Linked DNA regions of Homo sapiens. The protein of the gene in region 1 purifies or fractionates together with the protein of each later gene. This does not show direct contact. Each region holds a gene or a part of one and is shown in the gene's direction. Other genes may lie near its edges.

Region 1 (3,736 bases):
CTGGTGAAAATACTTCATAGGAATTTCTGTGTGCTTCTGACCGTACCATGTTGGGAGACACATTATGTGTAATTGTCTCTTTTTGTGACACTAGGAGTGACCAGTGTGGTCTGGATCATCTGCCTACTTTCTCTATTCTGACTTCCCACCAGCCTTTCATTTAATGCAGTGGTTCTCAGCCCTGTCTGCCTGTTAGAATCTGTGAAGTTGCTACACATTTCTGATGCCCAAGCCCTACTCCCTAGAATTAGTCCAGGATAAACCTGTGTTCAGTAATTTTTTTGAGCCTTAAATGATTCAAATGTACAGACAGGATTGAGAACCAATGACCTGATAAAATTGCAGCCATTGAGGATCTTTTTTCTAGAGATCCATTATTTGAGAAAAGGTTGTTAAATGGTGATGCTCTAGAATGCTTCCTGCAAATATTACAGAAATTCTTCCATAAAAAGTTTAATCAAGTCCTTTGTTCTTCCTTTAGTTTGTACAGGAAAAGTAGGATAAAGAGAAATGATAGATTCTTGTCAGTTTTCTGAATAATGAGTTGAGTATTCAACTTTCTACAAAGACCAGAGAATTTTGTTCATTATGAGTTTATATACTTTAGCACATATATGTGTATGAGTTTATATACTTTAGCGCTTTATGAATCAAAGGATTACATTTAATGTTATTACTATTACTATCATTTTAATGCTTAAATTATTTGAATTTTAGCCAATAGAAGTCGTTTTAAATTAACTTGTGACTTTTTTTGACAATATTTAATTGTTCAGTAATAGTATTTAATTGCTTCCTTGCCTTTAAGAATGACAATGTGTTTTAGACACATCTTATATGTTTGATAATTTATTTGTTCTGTGGCCTCCTTATCTTGTGCAGTTTCTGTCCTGAACCTGGGATCAGCCACTTAATAGTTTTGTTTTCTGTATCCCATTTGGGTGGTATTCCATTTGGTGCCTAGGACATGATTACAAAATGGAATGGCAGTTATTTATAGTAATAGTAAATTTCAAGATGCAGCAAATGGTAATTGGGAAAGATATTATGTAACAAAATCCTTAATTTTCCTATTATTAATCCTGCAGTGAATGTTACGTAAATCTTTGGTAACCGGTTTGTACTTTTTTCTCCCCAGTTAATGTCCATCAGTGTGTTGGCAGTTTCTGCTTGGATGAGGGACTACCTAAATAATGTTCTCACTTTAACTGCAGAAACGAGGTATACTTTATAATTATTGATTGAATTCTTTCTTGCTGATTTTAAGTAACTTTGCCCTCAGCTATTTATATGGTAGTGCTCTTCCTTGATCTTTTGGAAAAGTTTTTCCTGCCCATAGCAACCTTTGTCACAGACACTTGCATCCTCCAGAATTCTCCTTAAGGTGCGCCTCTGGTCCTAGCAGGGGATCAGGTGGCAGCATGTTTATACAGACATTTCTGGGTATGGTAATAGCAGTTGCCTGTCCTCCTGATTGTGCATCAGCCATGTCATAGGTGCGTGTAAAGAACCAGCATAGTTACTTTTCCCTAAGAAAATTACCGTCAGCTTCCTCTTACCTTCATATTCTTGGGTTAATGAAAACCATACACCACAATGATTTTTTTTTCTCAAATTTCAAGGGTTAATCTACTAACATCACAGGGGACAAATTACTTTTTACTCCATCATCTCTGAATGGAGATTGTATTATATGACATCTGAATTGTGGTAAGGATTAAATGAAAACCATTTTTTTCAAGTCCTTAACACAGGGAAAGTTAGCTTAATAATGGTTAATTTTTATCATTAATACTGGTTTCGGTTAATGAATTTTTCATCGTGTTCTAGCAAAAATCATTTCTACCTATTCCTTTCTTTAAATGTAGATTGATTTTCCTTTGCATAGCAGTCTTTTACATTTTGGGGGAGGATCAATTGTCAGGGAGAAGAAACGTAGTGCACATGGGATCAAAAATTAGAGAAGAGGAAGGAGATTCCTCCCAGCTGGGAAATAGCAAAGGCTCCCATGTGATTTACTTAGGCTAAGGCTTCGGAGATAATAATAGATGGACCTTTTATCAAGGTCCTGTATATTATATGTTAAATGAGTTGGGGTAGGAAAGCTACCACTTGTATTAAAAAAAACAAACACTGCAAAACCAAAAATAAAGCAACCGAGCAAATAAACATAAAAACAATAGCACAGTGATTTTGAAAATAACAATGCAGTCACTAGTTTTGAGGCATCATGATTGAAAGAATTATTAACACAAATCACAGTTGTGTCTTCTGCTATGTCTTGGGTGCATTTTGATTATATTTTCTTTCTAATACATTATTTTTCTTCTTTCAGGGTAGAGGAAGCAGTCATTTTGACTTACTTTCCTGTGGTTCATCCGGTCATGATTGCTGTTTGCTGTTTCCTTATCATTGTGGGGATGTTAGGATATTGTGGAACGGTGAAAAGAAATCTGTTGCTTCTTGCATGGGTATGATGTTATATTTTCTCTTTATTATAGTTAAAAAGATTAACCAGTAATATATTATTTTTTAATCAGTTCACAAGATTAGGGAGCAGTGATAGCAGTAACAACATCCTGTAAGAAGGGACGCTTTCGTTTCACAAGAGATTATTTGAATACACATATTTGCTGTACCGGATGAGGTATGGAAATATATATAAGCAATTTAATTATTTCACTCCAGCTACGTGTTGACATTTTCATTTGAAAGTATGAGTTCTTTCTAGTGTCCTTGTAGTTATTAGCACTCAAAAAGGCCCCTTGGGACTGGAACTGAGAAGCCATAAAGGAACTGTTTCTTTCTCTTCTATTTTTAAACAAATCCACCCTGTAAGCTCCTATGGAAATTCAGGTTGTGAGGTAGCAGACGTATGTAATGGTCCTGTCACTGCCTTTATATAGTTTAGAGAACATAAGCGAGTCTCAGTTTCTATAATCTTGGTTGTTGTTTTTTTAACTCTGAGAGTTGCACTAGGTACTTTTTAAATTAGTTTCACCATTCAAATTCTGTGACTAGTCTTTTAATTCAAAAGTAGGCAAACATTTTTAACATTAAAAAATTGAGTTGATTAAAATACTGTTTATATAGATATTTTTAGAAGAGCACTTAATGTGCAAAATATATACTAGTGGCACCAGGTAATGAGATTACTAACATATAGTTGCAGACATATAAGGCTGAAAAATTAATTCATTGAGTATACGCTTTTTTTATAGTAGGTCTCAGCCCTGGCTGTGTATTAATTTCATATAAAGAACTTAAACAATTTGAGTGGTGTGCTGGTAAGCTGGATCACTGGGCAGAAAAAAAGCTCAGATTTGTAGCATTTGGGGATTTCCGTGGGGTAAATTCTCCCAGCATGGTCAATTTTAAGTTACCAACATGAAATCACTGAATGTGGAACTGGGGACAGATGAGTACAAATTGGCTCAAGGAGCCAGCTCCCACACACTCGTGCTTGACTGGCTCCCATGCCAAGTCAATTAAAACAGAATCTTAGTGTGAAGTTGAACTAAAGCTTTGAATTTCACAGTATAACCTGTGTTAATGTATTACTTAGCTTCTTGGAGGGTAACTGTTCAGGTCGAATATTGAAAAACACAAAATGCTATAGAAAATAAAGCACACTCAGGCCGGGCAAGGTGGCTCACGCCTGTAATCCCAGCACTTTGGGAGGCCGAGGCAGGCAGATCACGAGGTCAAGAAATCAAGACCATCCTGGCTAACACGG
Region 2 (3,500 bases), on another chromosome or scaffold:
GCAGTGAGCCAAGATTGTGCCACTGCACTCCAGCCTGGGGGACAGAGCAAGACTGCATCTCAAAAAAAGAAAAAAAAAAAAGAAATCTCAGACACTTTTTGAGAACTAATTATTTGTTGCAAGAAAGTAGAATACCTGTTTGTAAATAGTTATTTTTAAATTATTCTATGTTTTATCTACAGAAGTGCAATTGCATAATTTATCTCGGTCGAAAAAACAAGAGACATAAATCATGTTAATAAAAAAGCTAATTAGAGCCAGCCTGGTCATTTTTTAATGGAGTGTGGTCTCTAGAACCATACAGACCTGGTTTTATTCCCAGCTCCTTGATTACTGTTTGTCCTTGCTGATCACTTAACTTCTATTTATTTATTTTTTAATTTAAAATAATTGAAACAGGGTCTTGCTGTGTTGCCTAGGCTGGTCTCAAACTCCTGGGCTGAATGGGTCCTTATGTCTTGACCTCCCAAAGTGTCGGGATTACATGCATGAGCCACGGTGCCTGGCCTAAATAGTACCATTGAGGGACCTTCTAATTATGAATTTAGCTGGTATTTCATATGGTGGAAGCACTATTTATTGTGTCCTAAATCAGAGGAGATACATGTTATATAAACTTGCCAGTCATTTGGGATACATAGGGCATGAAATATTTACTTGAAATCATTATTTTTGTATATATAACATGAAATACTTAGAATAAAGATATGATTCTTGATAGCTACCAGTTGAGTGCCTGCTCCATACCAGATGTTTCATAATTTGTTAAGTCTTAATACAGTGCCTGGCACATTGTGGATGCTCATTAAATATGTCTGTCTATTAGATAGTACTACATAGTAGTAATGCTATTGTAGATATAAATATATAATTCTCCTAATAGTGAAGATTGACACTCTGCAATTATACAGGCAGTAGAAAATAAATGAATAGTAGTTAGGATTGATGTAAGAGTATTGTCCTTATTTTACAACTGAGGAATTAGATTAAGTAACTTGTCAAAGGTTGTGCAGAATAAGTGGCAAGTCTGAGCTTCAAACCAGGGCCGATTCCTGAAACCTCGGCTCTTTTCACCATGCCATATGGTTTTCCGAAATTGGTACTGGATGACTTATTAAAGGAAAGCATATCTGAGAATGAAATGGCATGTGGTATAGCTCATACTAATGAGCTTATGCTTCCTTTGTGCAATATAAGGAAATATGTGGTGCTCCAGAGACATAAAATAATTCTTTAACTGTTTTACAAAGCCTGCAACAGCTACTCAGATATGAAATCTATCTCAATTGTTAAAATTCTTTCAATTTCATCTTAACAGTAAATGCAGTTGGAACTGAGGTCCAAAAGTGTGCTACCTTCAAAGTTGTATGATAAAGTATATTTAATATTAGACTGCAGGCATCTCTTCTTGATGGATTGTTGCTGCTGCGTAAATTTTACTAATCCTTTTGCTGGAAAGAAATACATAGCTTGTATTTCATTGGTTGCTAACTGGTATATGCACATGCTGTTTCCTTATTAGGTGTCTGCCAGTTTGTACACAGTGGATCACATAGTAAGTCGAGGGGGCTCCCCCATATGCAATAGCTTTTTTTAAATACTTTTATTTTATCAAAGAAAAACAGCTGAAGACATTAGTCTTATTAAGCAGTTAATATTTTACAGTAATGAAGAACCAGATGTCCATCCTGTCTTAAGCTTTCACACGTATACATTGATGCCTGTAATTGTTTTCTATTTTAAAAATCTATTAACACTATTACCATTTATTAAGCACCTTCTACATCCCAGGCACTATACTGGAAATAGCTTCCAAATTATTGAGGAATTTGGAGATAATGGCTGTTCTCTCCTTTTTTGATGAGAAAGCTGAGATTCTTAGACAGGTAAAATAACTTATGCACTCACCCAAAAGGTTTGATCTAGGTCTGGCTGATTGCAGTGTCCTTTCCCATACACCACACTGTTGCTCCTGTGTTTTCATTTAATGTAAGCCCAGTTTTAAAAAATCCCTTCATATAAACATTTTTATAGATGTATACCTTACTTTATCAGGCCCTTGTGTCACCATTTGCCATGTGAAGCTAGTCTGATACTTTTCCTGATAAGCCTGGTGATTCATATAAACAGGGATGTGGCAGAAGTATGCCATTGGTCCTAGGGTACTTGCTTACTCCTATCGCTGTTAAAGTTCTAGTTATATCACCGTTGTGTTTTTTGTTGTTGTTGTTTTTTAAGCAACAGGGTCTCACTTTGTACCCCAAGCTGGAGTACAGTGGTGTGATTATAGCTCACTGTACCCTCAAACTCCTGGGCTCAAACAATCCTCACACCTCAGCCTACTGAGTACTAGGACAACAAGTGTGCACTACCATACCCAGTTATTTTTGTGTGTGTGTTTGTTTTGGTACAGATGGGGTCTCGCTATATAGTCCAGGCTGGCCTCAAACTGTTGGCCTCAAGCAGTCCTCCCACCTCAGCTTCCCAAAGCCCTGGGATTACAGGTGTGAGCCACTGCACCTGGCCTGTCACTATTAGTTTTATTTTTAATTTTTCCCCCCCACAGATTGTAACCAAAGAAAATGGAAAAAGGGTGGTGGTTTTACCTACTAGGCTTTTTTCTTCGTATCACTTTTAAAATAAGGAACTAAAACCTCTATATGGCAAAGGTCTTGAGTATCAACTGGCTCCTATCATTTTTTTCTTTCAGTTATGAAACTTACTGGACGATTTGTAATAAACTTTACTAACTGCTTTCTTCCTAACCTGTTTTCCCCTGAGGAAAAAAAAATACTATTTTTTGGTAACCCTTCCTGTTCTTGAACTCCCTAGGAAGAGGAGTTGTACGCATGTCAGAGAGGTTGCAGGCTGTTTTCAATTTGTCAGTTTGTGGATGATGGAATTGACTTAAATCGAACTAAATTGGAATGTGAATCTGGTAAGATGCTATGCTAACGACATCAGCTGTATGTAACATTGTTTTCTTTGTGATAAGCTTTTGAAGTATTTTCTTTAGGAAATGGAAAACACACTGTTGAAACTAGTCATCTAACATATTGTAATTATTATGGATCTAAGAGTTTTCGTAGCTGCTGCTAGAAATTTCATGGGCTTTAAATTTCATCTGTTTGTTGAGACAGTGTTTATTTTCTGCTATGAATAGGACACCTTTGTTTAACCAAGCATTCTGTCAGACAAATGCAGTATAATTACCCTACTCACAATTCATTACTACCTTTTCACAGATAGTATAATTTTCCTAAACCTTTCAATCATAAGTTCATCGACTTATCTCCAAGTTTTTTACTGAATCAGGCCTTTGACTCAGTATTTAATAGCATATTATTCATTGGTCAGGCCATTAAAATAAGTAGCCAGAGGCTTTGTCATCTGTTAAACCACTTTTCTTTCTTTTTGCTGAAAGCAATATGTTTAACAAAAGAAACCTATAATCAGGACACAATTGACGTTTAACTTTTTAAATAACTATAATGGAATAT
Region 3 (3,736 bases), on another chromosome or scaffold:
CCTTGTCCTCCCAAAGTATTGGGATTACAGGCCTGAGCCACCGTGCGCAACCTATGATTTTGGTGGTGGTGTTTTTTGTTTTTCTGTTTTTTAAATATTCTTGAGTATATTTGTAAGCTTTAGATGACCTGTTTTAAGTTATTTAATCTATCAACACCATTATATCTGTTATTACGGCCACTGTTTCTGTTGATTACATTTTTTTTCCTGCCCATAGGGACTTTTTTTTTCATGCATAGTAATTTCTTATTGCTTGACATTGTGAATTTTGCTTTCTTGGGTACCGAACATCACTGTGTTCTTTCAAAGTCTATTGGGCATTATTCTGGTCACAGAAAACTGAGGATCAGTTTGCTCCTCTGATACTAGCTTTTATCTACATATAACTATATACCTTGTGTTCAGTTGCCTTATTCAGGGGCTCATTTAGTTAACTACTAAAGTTATAGTGGTTGACTTCTGATGGTAACTCGCCAGCACCCTGGCATGCGTTCTGTCCACTGTGGGAAGGGGAACATGCAGATCTCCCAGCCCTGAGTGGTCCACAATCTAGTCTCTCCTTCCCTGGGTGGCTTCTTCTCAGGCACCTAGAGTCAGTCTCAGCAGACACTGGACATGTCTTCTGCAAGGATCCAGAGTCCTCCAGGCAGCTGCTTCTCCCAGTCTCTGCCCTGCACTTGGCCTCTGGGAGTTCCTGCCTGTGGTTCTCAACAGAGACTACAGAGCTCTACAGGGTCCTCTGCCCCTGCTGTAGCTGGAGGCTGTCCTTACGCAGTGAGCTGAGGCCACAGCTAGTCTCACTGCATGTGCTTGGCGGCGGGGACAGGAGTGATTCATTCATCAGGTAGAGGAGGAACCCTTTACTCTGGGAAAATCTGTGCCTGGGTTGGGGAAGGACAAATGAGCCCTGTGTGAATACTGACTACTCCCTGGAGCCCACAGTCTGGTGGAGCAGGTGACAGCAGGGACCTAAATAACTATCAGGAAGCATGAGGTCCCACCACTGTCACCTCCCCCACCTCCAGAGTGGCTGTGCTGGCTCCAGAGATGTCATCCCTCCATATTTGACTGACAGAGGGAGGCTGTGCAGTCCCAAGGCTCCAGGTCATGGTAGTTTGGCCAGGATAATATGGTTTGCTTAAAATCAACATTGAGGGTAATGATCGTACTAATCAGAGCATGTGTTTAAAGTTCTGTGTTTTAAGCACTTTCCATACATATTAACACTTTCAGTTCACACAACAACCTATGCAGGAACTGTGATTATCCTGGGCAGTTTTAAGGATGTGGGTGACTCAGAGAGGAAAGAAGAGGTTACTCGGGTTAATTTTTGACGAGAAATATTAGCAGGTTTTATGCTCAAACTTGGTGTAAAGCAAGGAGCCTGAATCACAGGTGGGTGAGTCACAAGACAGGGAAACCCCGCCAATGGCTCATGTCCGGGAGGAGGCAGGGTCCCTAGAATTCAATGGGACAAGAACTGAAATAAGCCAAACCCCTGACCTCCCTTCTTCTTGTTTTCCTTCTCTCTCTTAACCATGCCCATGGACACCCCCATGAGCCCATTTCTGTGGCCCAACACAGCTGTGCATCTCTGGCCACACGCCCATTCTCCCTCAATCAGAGAGGCCCACGGACGGCACAGCCTCGTCCTGCACAGCAGAAAGAGTGAATGGTGATGAATGGATCTATATTATTTCAACTCTCCTACATTTTGTAATCATATTACAATATTAATTCAGCAGTACCTCTCTTGTTTTTACTCCCCTCCCCCATTACACTGGATTCCTGTCTGTCTGGGATTCTGTCTGTGTGCACTCTTTCCTCTATGTCCACTACTGTCCCTGCCACCGATGGCATTTGTCACCTCTGCCTGGGCAGCCCCTCCAGACTCTTTGCAAGTTCATGGACTTTGGGGTTAATGATGGCTGTGCCTCAGCTCCTGTGAATGGAAACTGTGCTAAGGAAAGGAAGGGCCGTGCCATGTTCCCGATACTCCACGGCTCCTTGCATATGCGGTCGCCAGGCGCCTACATGCCTTCCATGAATGAATGAATGAGTAACGTGGATTCTAGGAAGCTGCACTAACCCAGACGTTGTGTCCTCAGCCTGCTCATAGAGTGTGTTAAACGTGAGAGGTGGGGAGTGTGGCAGGCAGGCTGAGGACAGAACAGAGGATCTGAATAGAGTACGGAGGATCACCCAAGTCCAGAGTCACCAAGGCCATTGTCAAGTTTTCCCCGGGGACATCCCTCATCAGATCCACCCATTAAAGATCATTGTTCACCCAGTGGAGAGTGGACTAGGTGGGTGCACTCAGGTGTGGCCTGGACAGCATTCGGGATGGGTCCTAGTGGTTAGGGTGAGGGTCAGGTTGCATTATCGTGAAGGAGGCAAGTGGCAGCTGAGGCAGATCTGAGGGAAATGATGATAACGCAGGCCGGTGATGCAATGGGTTTGGTAAGAAGAGGAAAGAGGTTTGTGGTGGATTCTAGTGTTTCTAATCTGAGACTTGGGTGAGGTCATTACCAAATAAGAAAGAGTAAATGGGCATAAATGGCTTTAAGAATTAGGAACCTGAATGTGCTATTGGAGACAGTATGGGCACGTCATTGCTCATAGACCTGCAGTACACAAAATGCTAAAAGATTTCAATCTGAATAGAGATGAAATGAAATGGAAACATGGATTTTTTTTTTTTTTTTTGAGACAGTTTCACTGTTGCTGCCCAGGCTGGAGTGCAATGGCGCAATCTCGGCTCACTGCAACCTCTGCCTCCTGGGTTCAAGCGATTCTCCTGCCTCAGCCTCCTGAACAGCTGGGATTACAGGCGCTTGCCACCACACCCAGCTAATTTTTGTATTTTTAGTAGAGACCGGGTTTCACCATGTTGGCCAGGCCAGTCTCAAACTACTGACCTCAGGAGATCCACCGCCTTGGCCTCCCAAAGTGCTGGGATTACAGGCATGAGCCACCTTGCCTGGCTGGGAACATGGATCTTAAGGAAAGAAGGAAGATCATCAGGAATAGAAATATGAATGCACATATAAAGAATGATTATTTCCTCTTAATTTCTTGAAAATATTCACTATCAAGTAATATAACACTTTGTAGGGTTTGTAACATATGAACATGCCTGAGACAACTATAGCAGAAAGAATGAGTAGTGGAGATGAATCAATCTGTATTATTTCAAGTCTCCTACATTTTATAATATTACCATATTAATTCTGCCATACAACTCAGTAATGAAAAGGAATGGAGTACTGATGCATATGAAAATATGACCGAATTTCAAAATAATTATGCTGAGTTAAAGAAACCAGACAGAAAAGCATATATAGTATCTGATTCCATCTATGATATTTATAGCCAGAAATGGTTTAATTAAAAAAGAAGAAGGATCTTAAATCAACGAGCTAAGTTTACAAATGTAGGAATTAGAAAAAGAATGAACCAAACCTAGAGTTAGCATTATAAAGGAAATAATTATTAGAAGAGAAATAAATAAAACAGAGAATAGAAAAACAGTAGAGGCCGGATGTGATGGCTCACGCCTATAATCCCAGCACTTTGCGAGGCCAAGACAGGAGGATTGCTTGAAGCCAGGAGTTTGAGACCAGCCTGGATATGGCAAAACCCTGTCTCTACAAAAAATATAAAAAGCAGCCTGGCCCGGGGGAGCACACCTGTGATCCCAGTTACTCGGGAGGCTGAGGTGGGAGGATCACTTGAG

What was found.
Region 2: the proteins of TSPAN12 (region 1) and TMEM59 purify together in Homo sapiens (co-immunoprecipitation; one study listed by IntAct). This does not show direct contact.
Region 3: the proteins of TSPAN12 (region 1) and TNFRSF10B purify together in Homo sapiens (co-immunoprecipitation; one study listed by IntAct). This does not show direct contact.

What each region holds. Positions count from the first base shown.
Region 1 is NC_000007.14:120,837,512-120,841,247, reverse strand, and holds part of TSPAN12 (tetraspanin-12), read left to right. Parts: intron 1-1,138; coding exon 1,139-1,221; intron 1,222-2,335; coding exon 2,336-2,471; intron 2,472-3,736. UniProt on the Homo sapiens protein: Regulator of cell surface receptor signal transduction. Plays a central role in retinal vascularization by regulating norrin (NDP) signal transduction.
Region 2 is NC_000001.11:54,046,705-54,050,204, reverse strand, and holds part of TMEM59 (transmembrane protein 59 isoform 2 precursor), read left to right. Parts: intron 1-2,832; coding exon 2,833-2,938; intron 2,939-3,500.
Region 3 is NC_000008.11:23,062,317-23,066,052, reverse strand, and holds part of TNFRSF10B (tumor necrosis factor receptor superfamily member 10B isoform 1 precursor), read left to right. Parts: intron 1-3,736. UniProt on the Homo sapiens protein: Receptor for the cytotoxic ligand TNFSF10/TRAIL. The adapter molecule FADD recruits caspase-8 to the activated receptor.